Linked DNA regions of Homo sapiens: region 2 is linked to region 1. Evidence: fine-mapped expression QTL. Tissue or cell type: whole blood. Region 1 holds a variant in brackets; the other region holds the start of a gene. All regions are shown on one strand. Distances are from middle to middle.

Region 1 (8,258 bases):
AAAGACCCCCAACATGAGAAGTGTGACTGGAGCTCATTTATGGGGTGGTGTGGGGAAGATTTGGCTTGAGGGCTCAAAGGAGGGGCATGGTCTTCTGTGCTAATTTGAAGAAGTTTAGTTTTTACAGTTGATACCACTGGAAAGCATTGAAAGATTGGTGAAAGAGCTGTAACATAATAAGACACATTTCGGTTTTGTTTTTACTTTTTTAAAAAAGGTCCATCAGACAGTGGAACATGTAGGTGGAAGTGTGCTGATGAATAGAGTATCTATAGTCCCCAGTCTCTCCCTACAACATATTTATTACTTACAAAGGGGAAAGTGTAGTGGAGAAACCTGGGAGACATGATCTCAACCAAAAGATCAAAGTTAACCTCACCAGGAATGGGCAAACCCCTCACCACGTGCCTCCTGTTACGATGCATGGAATAACTGTGTAGGGTATTCGTGCCCAAAATGTGTAACCTCAGTGAATCATGAGGAAACAAACCCAAATGGAGCAGTATTCTACCAAATAACTGGCCTGTGGCTTTCAGCAATGTCAAGATCATAAAAGAACCCCATTCCTTCCAATGCCCATCAGTATGTGACTGAATTCAGTGTGATGTACACATAGAATGGATTATTACCTAGTAATTTAACATCTCAATAGGTCAACATGGAAAGATCTCAGAACAATGGCAGATGAAAACTGGACTGAGCTGCCCTTTTCCCCACCTGTAAGATGAGCAGAAAACCAAAGTTTGATGGCATACTGTGTTGACAAGGTTGTGGAGAAACAGGCACTCTCTCTCTCTGTTTTTTTTTTTTTTTTTTTGAGACAAGGTCTCGCTCTGTCGCACAGGCTGGAGTGCAGTGGCACAATCACAGCTCATTGTAGCCTCAACCTCTCAGGGCTCAAGTGATTCTCTCACCTCAGCTTCCCTGGTAGTTGGGACTATAGGCACACACCACCATGCCCAGCTGATTTTTTTAGTTTTTTGTAGAGATGGGGTTTCACCATGTTGCCCAGGCTGATCTTGAGCTCCTGGGGTCGAGAGATTCTCCTGCCTCAGAATCTCAAAGTGCTGGATCACAGGTGTGAGCTCTCACACACCCAGCGGAGAAACAGGCACTCTCATGCTTTGCTGGTGGAGGAGCCACATTGATAAAATCTCTATAAAGTTGTAACTATCAAAATTATACATACTCTTGACCCAATAACCCTTTCTGGAATTCAGTATAACATTCCACTAGGTACAAGATTTTTTGTTTGTTTGTTTTGTGACGGAGTTTCACTCTTGTAGCCCAGGCCGGAGTGCAGTGGTATGATCCCAGCTCACTGCAACCTCTGCCTCCTGTGTTCAAGCGATTCTCCTGCCTCAGCCTCCTGAGTAGCTGGGATTACAGGCATGTGCCATCACACCTGGCTAATTTTTGTATATTTTAGTAGAGATGGGGTTTCACCATGTTGGCTAGGCTGGTCTGACATTCCTGACCTCAGGTGATCCACCCACCTTGGCCTCCCAAAGTGCTGGGATTGCAGTCGTGAGCCACTGAGCTCAAGGTGCTCAGTGTTACAATCTTGTAACAGCTGGTACAAGACTGTTAATTGCAGCATTACTTGTCATTTATTAAAAAGTAGGTCAGGCCAGGCTCGGTGGCTCATGCCTGTAATCCCAGCACTTTTGGAGGCCAAGGTGGGTGGATCACCTGAGGTCAGGAGTTCGAGACCAGCCTGGCCAACATGGTGAAACCCCATCTCTACTAAAAATACAAAATTTAGCCAGGCGTGGTGGTGTGTGCCTGTAATCCCAGCTACCCAGGAGGCTGAGGCAGGAGAATCGCTGGAACATGGGAGGCAGAGGCTGCAGTGAGCCGAGATCACACCACTGCACTCCAGCCTGGGTGACAGAGCAAGACTCCGTCTCAAAAAAAAAAAAAAAAAAAAAAAAAGTAGGTCAGGCACAATGACCTACTGCAATAATCCCAGCACATTGGGAGGCCAAGGAATGAAGATCGCTGGGGCCCAGGAGTTCAAGACTAGCCTGGGCAACATAGCAAGACCCCAGTCTCAAACAAATAAAAACAAGGCAGGTGTTTATCATTGAGACCCTCCTCTCCAAACAGTATCTCCTCCCAGCCCACATCTAGTGAGGGAAGAGGAAATAAACTGTCTTCCCCACCTGAAGCCCAATAACTCATCTCCTGTTTCTGCCCATCTTCCTTCCACCTGCGCTTTTGTCCGTGTATAGTGTGGGGGTAATGAGCTTTGTGTGAGCGGGAGGGTCTCAGGAGAACCAGGCTGAGGGATAGATAGATACCTAGATTCTGGCTCAACCTCCACAGCCTACTTCCCAGTGAATGTCAAGCCAGTTCCAGCCTGATTCGGGGACTATCAATAGGAAAGATGAAGCAATGTGTCACTCCAACCCACTTGTCCCCAGATTACAAGACACAAGACACATGTGGATTTGTCTATTAGGATAGGTTGTCGGAAGAACCCCAGGGGACCCTTCTTGGATCAGGAACCAATGTCCACGGCCCCAGTCCCATGGGACGGGGCCCCAGCATTCATGGCCGCAGCATAGAACTTGGCCACCTCCTCACTGGGGTTGCCCTGGGCTGAGTCAAACCACATCTAGATGCAGCGGCCACTCCCTCAGCTGTAGTTGTAGTTGCTGACCTTGAAGGAATGGCTCCAGAGGCCTTCACAAAGGGCAGCTGGAGTGGGGAAGTAGGGCTCAAAGGTGTGGCAGAGGGCCCAGGCCGGACACTCATTAATCCCTGAGGGAGGAGAATGTAAGACCCTTAGCTTCTGGGCCAGACCACACCCCTCCCAACCCCAAAGCCCCACTCCCACTCCTCACCTCATCTCCTCCGTCCCTCACCTGAGGTCCAATTCCAGCCTTTGTGCCAGTTGCTTTTGCAGGTGTAGGAGGTGCGACAGTCCTCCCACCAGCGCTCACAGTCCTCTTTGCACAGGGGCACGTTCAGAATGCGCTCTTTGCGCCAGCTCTGGTTGACCTGAGTGGGGAGGAGACGGAACACTCCTGTCAGCCACGTATCTCAGCCGCTTTACCCTTGAAGGAGACCAGAGCTGTGGGAGGGGGCAGGGCGTCCACCACCCTCAGACCCAAATTCCTGGACCAAGCCCTCTCTGCAAGTGGCTGGCAGGTTGTGCCCTCTGCTGAGATTAATGTTTTGTGTTGTTTTTGTTGTTGTTGTTTTATTTTTGAGACAAAGTCTCGCACTGTTGCTCAGGCTGGAGTGCAGTGGCACAATCTCGGTTCACTACAACCTCCACCTCCCAGGTTCAAGCGATTCTCCTGCCTCAGCCTCCTGAGTAGCTGGGATTACAGGCTCCCACCGCCATGCCCGGCTAATTTTTGTATTCTAGTAGAGACAGGGTTTCATCATGTTGGCCAGGCTGGTCTCGAACTCCTGACCTCAGGTAATCCACCTGCCTTGGCCTCCCAAAGTGCTGGGATTACAGGCATAAGCCAATGCACCCAGCTATGAGGTTCATGTTTGTGGGAATGGCACTCATACCTGCCAGATCCAGGGCCCGAGGTTGGGTGAGCACTCATAGAGACCGGTGTCCTGGATAAAGTGGCGCTTGCAGGCAGGCTCCATCTTACCACAGTGATCCCAGTTAAAGTTGTACAGGCGGGAGGTGTCCTTGTGCAGCTCCTGGCTGGTGTTGGTCATGCAGCAGGCATTCTTCTTCTAGGGACTGCACTGGGTGGGGAAGACACAGGACTAAGTCCCTCACCACCGCAGCCATCTCCCCCATATTCTGGCTCCTCTGCCCCAGGTAGGTCATCCAGAGGAACACTTCCTAGGGAGGGCCCTTGAGGAGTCCCCACCTGGGAACACAGGCAATTACAATATTGGTGCATTTTTCCCTTATTTATTTATTTATTTGAGACAGGTCTCTCTCTGTTGCACATGCTGGAGTGCTGTGGTGCAATTATAGCTCACTGTAGCCTCTACATCCTGTGCTCAAGCAATCCTCCCACCTCAGCCTTCTGAGTAGCTGGGATTCAGGCCCATGCCACCACACCTGGCTATTTTTAAAATCTTTTTGTAGAGACAAATGGGATCTAATTAAACTAAAGAGCGTCTGCACAGCAAAAGAAACTACCATCAGAGTGAACAGGCAACCTACAGAATGGGAGAAAATTTTTGCAATCTACCCATCTGACAAAGGGCTAATATCCAGAATCTACAAAGAACTTAAACAAATTTACAAGAAAAAAATCAAACAACCCCATCAAAAAGTGGGCAAAGGAAATGAACAGACACTTCTCAAAAGAAGACATTTATGCAGCCAACAGACACATGAAAAAATGCTCATCATCACTGGCCGTCAGAGAAATACAAATCAAAACCTCAATGAGATACCATCTCACACCAGTCAGAATGGCAATCATTAAAAAGTCAGCAAAAAACAGGTGCTGGAGAGGATGTGGAGAAATAGGAACACTTTTACACTGTTGGTGGGACTATAAACTAGTTCAACCATTGTGGAAGACAGTGGGGCGATTCCTCAAGGATCCAGAACTAGAAACACCATTTGACCCAGCCATCTCATTACTGGGTATATACTCAAAGGATTATAAATCATGCTGCTATAAAGGCATATGCACATGTATGTTTATTGCGGCGCTATTCACAATAGCAAAGACTTGGAACCAACCCAAATGTCCATCAGTGATAGACTGGATGAAGAAAATGTGGCACATATACACTATGGAATATATGCAGCCATAAAAAAGGATGAGTTCATGTCCTTTGTAGGGACATGGATGAAGCTGGAAACCATCATTCTGAGCAAACTATCGCAAGGACAGAAAACCAAACACCACATGTTCTCACTCATAGGTGGGAATTGAACAATGAGGACACTTGGACACAGAGTGGGGAACATCACACACC[G/A]GGACCTGTCGTGGGGTTGGGGGAGGGGGGGATAACATTAGGAGAAATACCTAATGTAAATGACGAGTTAATGGGTGCAGCACACCAATATGGCACATGTATACATATGTAACAAACCTGCACGTTGTGCAAATGTACCCTAGAACTTAAAGTATTAAAAAAAAAAAGATGGGGTCTCACTATGGTTCCCAGGCTAGTCTCAAACTCCTGGGCTCAAGCAATCCTCTCATCTCAGCTTCCCAAAGTGCTAAGATTACAGATGTGAGCCATCACGCCTGGCCAATATTGGCTTTTAACGGAGCATAATAGAGGGGAGCCACTGTCTGGGACAGTAATTATTGTTTGTACAGCTCTTAATGGTTGAAAAAGTTATTTCATGTTATTCAGCTTATTTATATTATTCATTTTGCATCCAGCCAATATTAACTGAGTGCTTATTAGACATCAGGCACTGTGATAGGTCCTAGGAACACCCCAGTGAACAAAGCAAGTAACATCTCTAGCCTCATGGAGGGTATAGTTTTAATGGGTGGATGGGCTGTGTGTACAGGGAAGATAAAGAACACTCAGGCATAGAAAACCATAGGTGCAAAGTCCCTGAGGCTTTTGCACTTTATCCTCTTAACAACCCAGTATGAATCCTTAAACCCATTTTTACAGCGTTTCAGTAAGCTACACCTGTGGTATATAGTAGGGTTAAGATTTAACTCAGGACAGGAAGGAGAGGAACCTGGCCCAGGTTGTGGGGGAGGGTGGAGGTCAAGGGGCTGGTGTGGCTTTTCCAGGGTCTGGAAGTCCAGGCAAGGAGACTCCAAATAGATCCTGAGAGTGGTGGGGGAACAGAGGAGCTGTAGCCTGAACGTGGGCCTGAACCCGGGCTTGACTAAATGTGGAAAAGGCAATCCTAGAAAGGTAAATACAATGCAGGCAAGACAAGCAGAAATGGTGGAGGTTTTTCTTTGGAAATCACTCTAGGCCAGGATGCAGAAAACCTGAGAAATCATGAGTCAATTGCATAACATTTCTGGGCTGAACCCTTGCACCTAGGGTCAAGTGATGGCAGAGGCGTGACAGGTCTGAGCAACCAGGAGAAACAATAGGGAAATCCATGGGAGTGGAGCCAGACCTACCCACTGGGCCACCACGCCCAGTGCCGGCCGACACAGAACATGCTTCCCCGCCAGCACAACTTCACACTTGCTTTTCCTTGGCTGTCCCAACTCTTGGTCTTCCTGCAAGACCCCTTGCACATCATGGGTCTTGGGGTTTGGCAGACATGGGTTTTGCCAGTCAGGGTCAGGGGTTTCTGCCTCTGAAAGAGTTACTGAATATAATGAAAAGTACTCCCTGGCTATAGAAGTGGCCCAACAAATATCATCACTCTCATATAGCTCATGGCCCTGAGAATGATAATCATCTGTATCTCTCAAAGTCTACATCTGCACCATTTCTTGGCAAAGAGTAGGTGCTTTAGAAGGTTCTGAAAAGCAAATGAAGTGGTGGGCACAAAGTTTCCATTTCAGTTTTGGAGAATGAAAGAGGTCAGGAGATGGATGGTGGTGATGGTTGCACAACCACATGAGCATACTTTTTTTTTTTTTTTGACAGAGTTTTGCTCTTGTTGCCCAGGCTGGAGTGCAATGGCGCGATCTCGGCTCACTGCAACCTCTGCCTCCCAGGTTCAAGCAATTCTCCCGTCTCAGCCTCCCGAGTAGCTGGGATTACAGGCATGGGCCACCATGCCCGGCTAATTTTTTTTTTTTTTGTATTTTTAGTAGAGACAGGGTTTCTCCATGTTGGTCAGGCTGGTCTCAAACTCCTGACCTCAGGTGATCCGCCCACCTCGGCCTCCCAAAGTGCTGGGATTACAGGCGTGAGCCACTGCACCCGGCATACATGAGCATACTTAATGCCACTGACCTGTACAGTTAAAAATGGCTAAAATGGAGAACTTATTTTATTTATTTATTTTAAATTTTACCCTGATTTTAAAATAAGCAAATGGAATGTTGGGAATGACTCAGATGTCACAGGGCTTCCAGGCTGTCCTCTCTTTGCTTTAGCCCTCGGAGCCTGTCCATGCCACAGTCTCTCCCTGGGCACATCCTCACCCTCTGGGAATGTGAACCCTTCTAGGGAGCAGGCCAGGAGACCAGAGAAATGAAATACAGGCACTCTCCTGAGCTTGGAATTCAAATTGGAGCTCATACTCCCCGAGCTGCCTCAGTGGCCTTACCTGTGGCATGAGGGCCCTGGCCTCCCCTCCCCTTCCTTGTGGGCAGTGGCACCGCTGGCTCTGGCCACACTGGACCCGCCATTGCTCGTGCCATCACCCTCTGACCTGTGTGCATGCTGTCCTCTACCAGGCTGCCCTTTCCCGCTTTTTCCTCCTAGAAAACTCTTACTCATCTTCCCAGGTCAAGGCCAATGGTCTCTTGCCTGGGAAGTCTCCCCAGCATATTGGATTGGTCGTTGTCTCTTCAGTACCTAATGGGGGTGGAAACCTGGACTGTTTGTACATGTAGGCTGCACCATGACCATGATGGGCCCAGCTCCTCTTCTACTGTGCCATTGAGCTCTGTGGGCTGGCACACAATTAAGGCTGGGAAAGGTATGGACAGTCCCTCTCCTCATTTCCCACTTGCACCTGCGCCCTCTCTGGGCCTATTTCCTCATTTGCGTAAGTAGAGACTACCACGCACCCACCCTGCCCTTTGGGCATATTCACTAACATGGCATGAGTGAAAGCACAAGGCTCATAGGCTCATAGTGGGTGTTAGGTATGTGGTTCCTTTATTATTGTAGATTTGGTGTCCTCCCAGGGGAGGCCCTCCAGGATCACAGCAGTCATCCTCTGCCTTCATCACCTTCCACAGCTGACTTCACCCTGCTAACTTTTCTCTGTCAAAGGCAGCTCTCTCCCCTGCCCCAGACCCGACTTTATCCTCACCTGGCCATACAGCTCGTCCTCGGGGCTGGGCTGTGTCTTGTGGTACTTGGCGTTCATGCAGACATTGAGCAGGTCTGTCCTGGCCCGCGCACTCCTGGGCTGGGCACTCCCCGCAGCAGTCACCAAAGCCAGAAGGAGCAGCTGCATCATCTGCCAGGCCATGTCCATCTATTCCTGCCAGAGAGCCACAGTCAGAGGTAGACAAGGCCTGAGGGAGGGGCAACAGCCATGTGATTGTGTACTGTCTCCCTCCCAGGCCCAGATCTCTGCTGTCCCCACCCTGCATCCCCTACAGGGCAGCTGAGCCAAGAAATGCGCTGCGTGTAGAGGTGAGAGGGAGCCCTTCCCCGGCTGGCCTGGAGGCAGGACTCTCCTCCTACTTCCCACC
Region 2 (8,000 bases), 48 kb before region 1:
GGGGGCAGAAATGCTGGTGGAGCCAGAGCGCGGGGGCAGCGGGGGCTTCTCATCCTCCCCATCTGTGGGCAGGGGTCAGTGGGCAGCCGTTTGGGCCTCCCACACTCAGTGGAGTAGGAGGCACGATGCAGCTGTAAAGTGACTTCCATGGAAAGAGGGTTAAAGGGCCCCGGCATCATGGCCAAGGGAAAGGGGGTTACAGGAGAGGTGGGGTTGAGAAGGGGGGATGGGAAGAGGCAGGTAGAGCCAAGGGACAGGGGCAGGGAGGGGACCTGCACACTGGGAAGTACCTGAGGCATCCCGGTCATCCGGTGGGTCCGGCTCTCGCTCACCCTCTACAGGAAGAAGCAGGGCGCACACAAGGCCCTGGTTGGGCTGGGCGTACAGGCCGATGAGCTCACCCAGGGTCTGGAAGCGGCGCACAGGCACACCCTGCGAGGTCTGTGGGCCAGCAAGGGTGGGAGGAAGGGTCAGCCAGCAGGTCCCCAAGCCCTAGGCTGGATCAAGGTCAGGGGTCAGGGGCCCAAGCTCCTACCTGCACAGCCAAGAAATCTTCTCCATCAGGCAGAATGCGATACGTGTGCACATGCTTCTGATACCTGATGCCAAGGCAGGGCCAGAATCTGTCACCCCCAGGCTGGGGTCTAAGACCCAAAGCACCCCTTCCTCCTGCCAGCAAGCTCAGCACCCCAACCCCCTCAGCTTGGTTTCCCTAAAACCACCTGCCCAGGCTGCACAGGGTTAATGATGTGGCCGGTCCACTTCCACCCTCCTGGTGTTGCCTATTGGGCAGGAATGACCAGAACACCCCCGTCTCCCCACCAGACCTACACAGACTCCACACCCACCACAGGGCAGGGCCTGAGAAGCAACAGGGAGCTCTTTTGTGGCCTCCACAGCTGTCTAAACAGCCCCTCTGGGCTGTGGTACCAGTCTGGGCTCCCCGCCAGAGTAAGAGTCTTCAGAAGCCTGGTTAGCCCATTTGCACACACGGGCAACGTGCTAACACGTGTGTATGCCTCCTGTGTTTATGCTGCTCTCTGGCTCTGCTGGAGTCGGGTATGTCTAGGGCACTTGTGCCGAGGAGTGTGGGGGCATCACCCTAGGCCTTCCCACCAAAGAGGGCCCCCATGGGAGACCTGGGCCTCTAGGAGCCCCAAGCCAAGGAGGGGCAAGAGGGGTGCTGACAGACAGGAGCCGCAGTTGAGCAGGTGGCAGCTGAGCCAGGTGCACAATCAGCGGGGGATGGAAGATCCTCTGCCTCCGCACCTCAGGGCATGCTTCCCCAAGGAGTCACCCAGGAGTCACCCTAGGTGACTCTCCTGGCTGCTTATGCTGGGTGAGTGTCTGTCACCAGGTGTTCCTTTGTAGACTATTACAAACACTATCTGTGTTTATTACAATAGCATACCATTAACTGAATCCTATCTGTGACACGCTGGGTACCCAGTGTCCTATAAATCTTACTTAATTCTCACACTTCTAAACAGATATTATTATCCCCATTCTCCAGCTGAGGAAACAGGCTCAAAGAATAAAAGTGATTTTCCTAAGGCCACAGAGTAAGTAAAAGGTGGAGTTGGGATTTTAAACCATGGCAGAAGCCAGGGCCAGTATCCTAGCTTGCTGGTCAGATTGCCTGTGCCTGCTGGGGCAGGGGCGTGTCTTGCATGTTATCCATGAACACCCGGAATGTATACAGGTAAGCAAGTATGTGTGTATTTGGCAAATCTAAGATATTGCCCACGTCTGATCGCCCACGTCTGATCCTTACCCCCAGGCTCTTGAGATGCGGGGAAGAGCCAGAGTCAGCTGGCAAACCTGAAGCCCCCACTCACAGACAGACCCCTCACCCCATTCACAGCCTCCCTTGGCAATGAGGCCAGGATTCTCCCCCTCCTGGGACAATAATGTTCCTCACCCAGACACAGGCCCCAGCTGTCCCCCTCCCACTCAACAGCTGACCCAGCACCTGCCTCCCTCCCCAGCCTAATTAGGGGGTATGCCTCAGAGGGGGCTGGGAAGCAGGACTTGGGGATATTCATCTGCCTAGTCTGTCCCTCCTTAGTCTCCCCCTACTGGGCCTCAGACTTGAGGCCTAAGCTAAGACTTATAGGGCCCCTTCCTTGTTGGGTCAATTGCCTAGGCTAGAGTTTTTCAACCTCCATACCACTGACATTTTGGATTGCACAGTTCTTTGTTGTGGGGGACTCTCTTGTGCACTGTAGAATGTTTAGCAGTATCCCCGGCTTCTACCCACTAGATGTCAATAGCACCATCCCAGTTGTGACAATTAAAAATGTCTCCCCAGCTGGGCGAGGTGGCTCCACCTGTAATCCTAGCACTTTGAGAGGCCGGGGCAGGTGGATCACTTGAGGTCAGGAGTTCAAGACCAGCCTGGCCAATATGGTGAAACCCCATCTCTACTAAAAATACAAAAATTAGCTGGGCTTGGTGGCGAGCGCCTGTAATCCCAGCTACTGGCGAGGCAGAGGCAGAAGAATCACTTGAATCCAGGAGGCGGAGGTTGCAGTGAGCCGAGATTGCACTACTGCACTCCAGCCTGGGCAACAGAGCGAGACTCTTTCTCAAAAAAAAAAAAAAAAAAAAAGGTCTCCCCTGGTCTAGGCTAATGTGCGCCCCGACCAAAGATGTCAGGAGAACAAAGGGGTAAGGAAGGTACAGTGGGACAGGAGTTTGGGAGGGGGTTCACAGAGCTAAGAAAGATCTAAATAAAGATCTAAATAACTGATCTAAATAAAGCAGCCCCCACAGATTCCCACTCACTGGGCCCACAGAAGCCAACTCAATGTCAGACTGCAGGGCAGGAGGTACAAAGCCGCTAGAAGGCTGCAAAACCAAGAGTGCTAACTCACCCCAGCACCACTACCAACCACACTGGGCTGAAAGGCACAGCCACAGGACCTGGCCCACTCAGAGAAGCACCAAGTCTGGCTCTGCTCTCACTCAGCACTCATAGCTCAGGGCTAGGGCAGCCAGGTAACCAGGGCTCAAGCCCAGAGCCAGGGCTCAAACACTCACTCATTGGTTCAGAAATAATGGCAAGGTCCCATACAGCCTCAGCCTCTGCTTCCCCAAGCCTTCCTCTCTACACCACCCATCACCGCCCCCACCACCCATACACGGCCAGGCAGAACCCCAAAGCACCGAAAGGGGCCCTAAGGAAGCTGCCAGGCATCCCCACACACCCCGTCAGTCCCTCTGCCCCGACTCCCTCTCCTGCTCACCACTCAGTCCCTATCCAAACGGGACTGCACACAACGTGGAATGCACATCCTCTCCCCTGCTCCCTTCTACCTGGAGGATGCCTGAAGGGGTCTGCCGGGGAATGCCCGAATTTTTCGTCATCACAGTCACACTGGGCCACAGAACCCCATATTCTCTACCCTCAAGGCTCCTGAAAGTGCCCCCAGACACACAGCAGGAAGTGCCCCTGCGTCCCTCCTCAGACCCAGGAGAAAGCCAAGGCTCCCACTCTGGGGGGTGGAGGCGGGTCTGGCGTCCCACCGCCCCAGAAACCCTCACCCGGGCCCTTTCCACACCCGGCCGTGCCCGCGCTCCCGGTCCACGCCAGCCCGCAAGGAGCCCCCGCCCCACTCACAGGACGCAGAGCGCGAAGGCCCCCGCCACGCTCTCGCTGTCTCGGACCAGGAAGCTGCCATCGCGGCCCGCCCGGGCCAGCAGCTCCTCCGCGGCCGCCCGGCTCAGGTCGCGGTGGTACCAGGAGGGGGCCTGGCTGCCCAGGGCGCCCCCCGGGCCCGGCGCCCCGCAGGCCGAGGCCATGGCCCGCGCAGGGCTCAGCACCGCCCGCCCCCGCCGCCCCGCGCCATCCGCCCCGAGACGCTCAGGGCTGAGGCTGGGGCCGGGCCCGGGGCCCGGGCTTGAGGATCCGTGGGCCGGACAGAGCCGGGGATCGGGACTCAGCACTCCGCCGCGCAGGCCGCCTCGTTCACCGCGCAGCCGCCGCTGCCTGCAGCGCCGGCCTCAACTTGAAGAGAAAGAAAAGTTTGTTCAGAGGCGGCGGGGGAGGGGCAGGAGCGGAGCGCAGGGCCGGCTGCCGCCCCCTCCCCCTCCGCTCGGCCCGCAGCCCGGGCCGCCCCTGCCCCCAGCTCCTCCTGCGGGGACGGTGCCCCCACCTTCCCGAAGGGCCCGGGACCTCCCAGACCCCACAATGATCCTGCCCCCATCATTCACCCGAGGAGATCCAGTCCCCAAATCCCCATCGAAATCCGAGTCCCCCCATCCTGGCCCCGACACTTCGGGATCCAGGCACCCCCTGGAGAATTCAGCGCTTCTCAGTTCTCCCAATGATATGACCCCTAAGCCCCATAAAGGTCTGATTCCACTCCATGGCTCTTCCTCTCGTCCCCCTTACAGCTTGGCTGCATCGAGTTCCCCAAACCTGCGAAGGATCCAGGACCACCCCCTACCCATCCTCTTCCCTCCACCCAAGCGGGCGGGGCCCCCAACTCCTGCGAAATGCAGCCCCCTCTTAGATCTGAACCCCCAACTCCACGGGAACCGTCCCCCGGCAAAGCCTGCGGGGAGATTCCCTGGCTAACCAGGCTTCTGAAGATTCTTACTCTGGCGGGGGGCCCAGACGAGGTGCGACGTTCTCGAGCCTCTCACGCAGCCCCTCCCAGCCCCGCAGAGCCCTTCCCCCTCTCGGCCAAGTTCCCCAGCACCACCCCCCACACCCGCAGGCCGGGCCTTGAGGGGGTTCAGCAGTCCGAAGCCAGGAGGATCCCTGGCCCGTCTAGTAGAAAGTTCCCTCCCGGGATCCCGGCCGCCGCACGCAGACCCCCACCTCCCGGGCTGCTCCGGCGCCCCCTTCCCCGGACAGCGGCCCTGGGCTCCAGGCGGCCACTTAAGATGGCCATCCGCGCGCGCCCCCGCCCTCCGCGCCGCCCGCCCCGCCCCGCGCCGCCCCGGGGAGCCGGGGGCAGCACCGCGCCTCGCCTCACCCCGCCCCGCGCCTCGGTCCCGGAGCCGCTGGCCCACTGGGTGACCTCGGGCAAGTCGCGGCGCGGGGTTGAGCGTCGGCTTCCCGCTCTGGAAAATGGGGATCCTGTGGCGAGGGCCGGCTCTGGGGGCCGAGCTCGTACCGCGCTCGGCACCGGGCCTGGCGCCCAGCCCGCGCTCCCGAACGGCGGCTATTTTTATTATTAATTAAGGAGAAACGAAGGTGACAGCTGTGTAAACTGTAAAGCGCGGCTGCGGAACGAACGGGTATTATTAGCACTCGCCCCCGCCCCAGCGGCTCCCTCCGAGTCAGCAAACTCGCGCCTCCGCGGGCCGGACGCCCAGCGGGGAGCTCCCAGACGGGGTCCGCTGCAACGCCCCCCTAGCTTCCTCCCCTCCAGCCGAGGGCGGAAGGGGGACGCGGCAGCCGCAAAGGGGGCGGAGCCCATAAAAGGGTCTGGCCCGCCCCCTCCCAAAAAAAGACCTAGCCGGTGGCGGCGTCTCCGGGGAGTCGTCTTCCTGCCCCGCCCCTCCGCCCCCTGGCTCCTTAAAGGCGCAGGCCTCCAGCCGGGCGCCCGCCGCCACCATCTCCTGGGCCGCCGTGGGAGAATCCCTTTAACCTGGGAGAGAACTTTCACTTTGCTACGTTGAACCTGTTGACGGAGCCCGGGTCAGTCCCTCGAGCTCCTTCCTCTATTTCAAATATGCATTGACTTAACCCAGCTGGAGCAGAGCCTGGGACGTGGAAGGGGCTCTGTGGGGCCTTCCACACTAGATAAATATAATAACTAAGAGATCCACCCACCCACCCAACAGTGCCTCCAGAACCCAATAACTCATCCTACAATCTGTGCCACCGTTCTCATCAGCCACCTTTTAGTATAAGAAAAGATGAGCCTGATGTGAGGGGAATCCTTGGTAGTGGGGGAGAGACCTGGACTGGGAGTCTGCACACCTGGGTTCTAGTCCTAGCTGGGCCACCTACCTGCAGGGTGTTCTCAGAGACTTACCTGGGCCTCTCTGGGGACAGTTGTAGTAGGAGTGTGCAAACAAAGACTTATCCAAAGGGAAAGGGGTGTTGGGAGACCCAGAGATAACTTAGGCCCAGCTCCCGAGGGCTTTGCAAAGACAGAGCAACCCCCTCAAGATAGGCATATCTGCCAATCCCAGGAGGAGACAAAGGTGCCAGAGGCTCCTGACCCCGGGAAGCCCTTAAGGGTTTCTAACTCTTCCAGCCACACCTCCAGGACACCAAAGCGCTGAACCAGTTCCAGGCTCTTGAGTATTCCACTCCAGAAACCCCCTACACTGCCCTCTCCAATTGGCTCTGTTTTTCCTCTGAGAGTCCCAGGCCCCAACTCTGCTCCTTCAATGTGCATCACGTTTTTTTCATCCCACTGTGAATTTTTTTCATCCCACTGGCAATCTGAATCCTTTCCTGGACTCCCATTCCCAGCTTTCCTGTTACAGAGCCGAGCACAGAGCCAGGCACAAGGGCTGGAGGACCAGGAGGCTGTTTGGAGACCAAGACAAATAAGCTCAGGACCTGGCTCCCACTTGGGGCAACAGGAACAACAGGATCCCTGAAGACTATTAATGTGCAGACACTGGGCTCACGGGCTTTCTAGGCAACAGCTCCTGTATATTTCACAAGCCTGAGGGCAGGACTATTATCCTCTTTTTATCCAGAAGGAAACAAAGGTTTAGAGCAGTGAAGCAACTGTTTCATTTTCACAAAGTAGCAGAGCTGGGATTCAAACACAGGTCTAGTTGCTCTAATTTGAAGGAATCCAGAAGCCGTAGAATCTGTCTCCCACCCACCCACAAACTCACAACCAAAACAATTCCACAGACATGGAATTATTAGAAAACAGTCTGTTTATTAGAAGTGACTCTTGGCCCCACCATGGAGCAGCAACAGACTGGGTGACAGAGGGTTAGGTGACTAATAGAAGCATGCTTAAGGGGCTGTCATTTGTGGGAGCTGAGCTGAGCCCAGCCTGGTTATCCAAGCTGAGGGCAGGTAGTCTGGGAGGACTGAACTCAGCCAAGGAGCCAGAGTTGCAGCATCAGGGCCAGACTGAGCAGGAGACCCCCAGTCCCATGAAGCATCTCACCAGCATTCACATGCATGGCTGCAGCATAGAACCTCGCCACTTCCTCGTTGGGGTTGCCCTGGGCTGAATCAAACCACATCTGGATGCAGCGGCCGCTCCCTCGGCTGTAGTTGCTGACCTTGTATGAGTGACTCCAGAGGCCTTCACAAAGGGCAGCTGGAGTGGGGAAGTAGGACTCAAAGGTGCGGCAGAGAGCCCCAGCTGGGCACTTGTTAACTCCTGCAGGGAGAGGCATGGTGGACACAGACTTTCAGCCCCTGGGCCCAAAGCTCATTTCTGGCCACCCCCAGAAATCTTCACCCCACCCCAAATCCTTGAAGATTTTCCAAACCCTACCTCAATCTCCTTTTTCCTAACCCCAACTCAATCACCCTCACCTGAGGTCCAGTCCCATCCTCTGTGCCAGTTGCTCTTGCACGTGTGGGAGGTGTGACAATCCTCCCACCAGCGCTGACAGTCCTCTTTGCATAAGGGCACATCCAGGAAGCGTTCTTTGCGCCAGCTCTGATTCACCTGGGTGGGAGGTGGGGAGGCAGGGCTCCTCTCAGCCAGGGATGCTGGCAGCCATCGCCTTGAAGTGACTGAGGGGGATGGCAGTCTGCTGGGGTGGGTGGGGGGGAGACACCCTACCTGCTGGATCCAGGGCCCCAGGTTGGGTGAGCACTCATAGAGACAGGTGTCCTGGATGAAGTGGCGCTTGCAGGCGGGCTCCATCTTGCCGCAGTGGTCCCAGTTAAAGTTGTACAGGCGGGAGGTGTCCTTGTGCAGCTCCTGGCTGGTGCTGGCTGTGCAGCAGGCATTCTTCTTCCAGGGACTGCACTGGGTGGGGAAGACACAGGACTAAGTGCCTCCCCATACCCTCCTCCTCCTGCCACCTCGTGTCTCTCCCCCATTTGGTTC

The links. PIP is the estimated chance that this variant, and not a neighbour inherited with it, causes the effect.
Region 2: INPPL1 starts here. The variant in region 1 is fine-mapped to the expression of INPPL1 in whole blood (TOPMed, PIP 0.94).

The regions. Positions count from the first base shown.
Region 1 is chr11:72,172,229-72,180,486 of GRCh38, reverse strand. All of the region lies in intron 2 of FOLR1-AS1 (FOLR1 antisense RNA 1), which reads left to right. It also overlaps the pseudogene FOLR3P1. Among named protein-coding and RNA genes, the nearest start is that of FOLR1, 16 kb to the left of the region's middle. The variant G/A (reference allele first, on the strand shown) is at 4,921.
Region 2 is chr11:72,220,789-72,228,788 of GRCh38, reverse strand. INPPL1 (inositol polyphosphate phosphatase like 1) reads right to left here and starts at 4,022. Exons shown (of 28, transcript NM_001567.4): 1 at 3,623-4,022; 2 at 536-599; 3 at 291-441; 4 at 1-62. The coding sequence starts at 3,804. FOLR2 (folate receptor beta) reads right to left here. Exons shown (of 5, transcript NM_000803.5): 3 at 7,731-7,919; 4 at 7,478-7,613; 5 at 6,839-7,319. The coding sequence ends at 7,027. RefSeq lists an enhancer at 1,772-2,131 and silencers at 3,537-3,746, 3,757-4,116, 4,667-5,066, 5,307-5,536.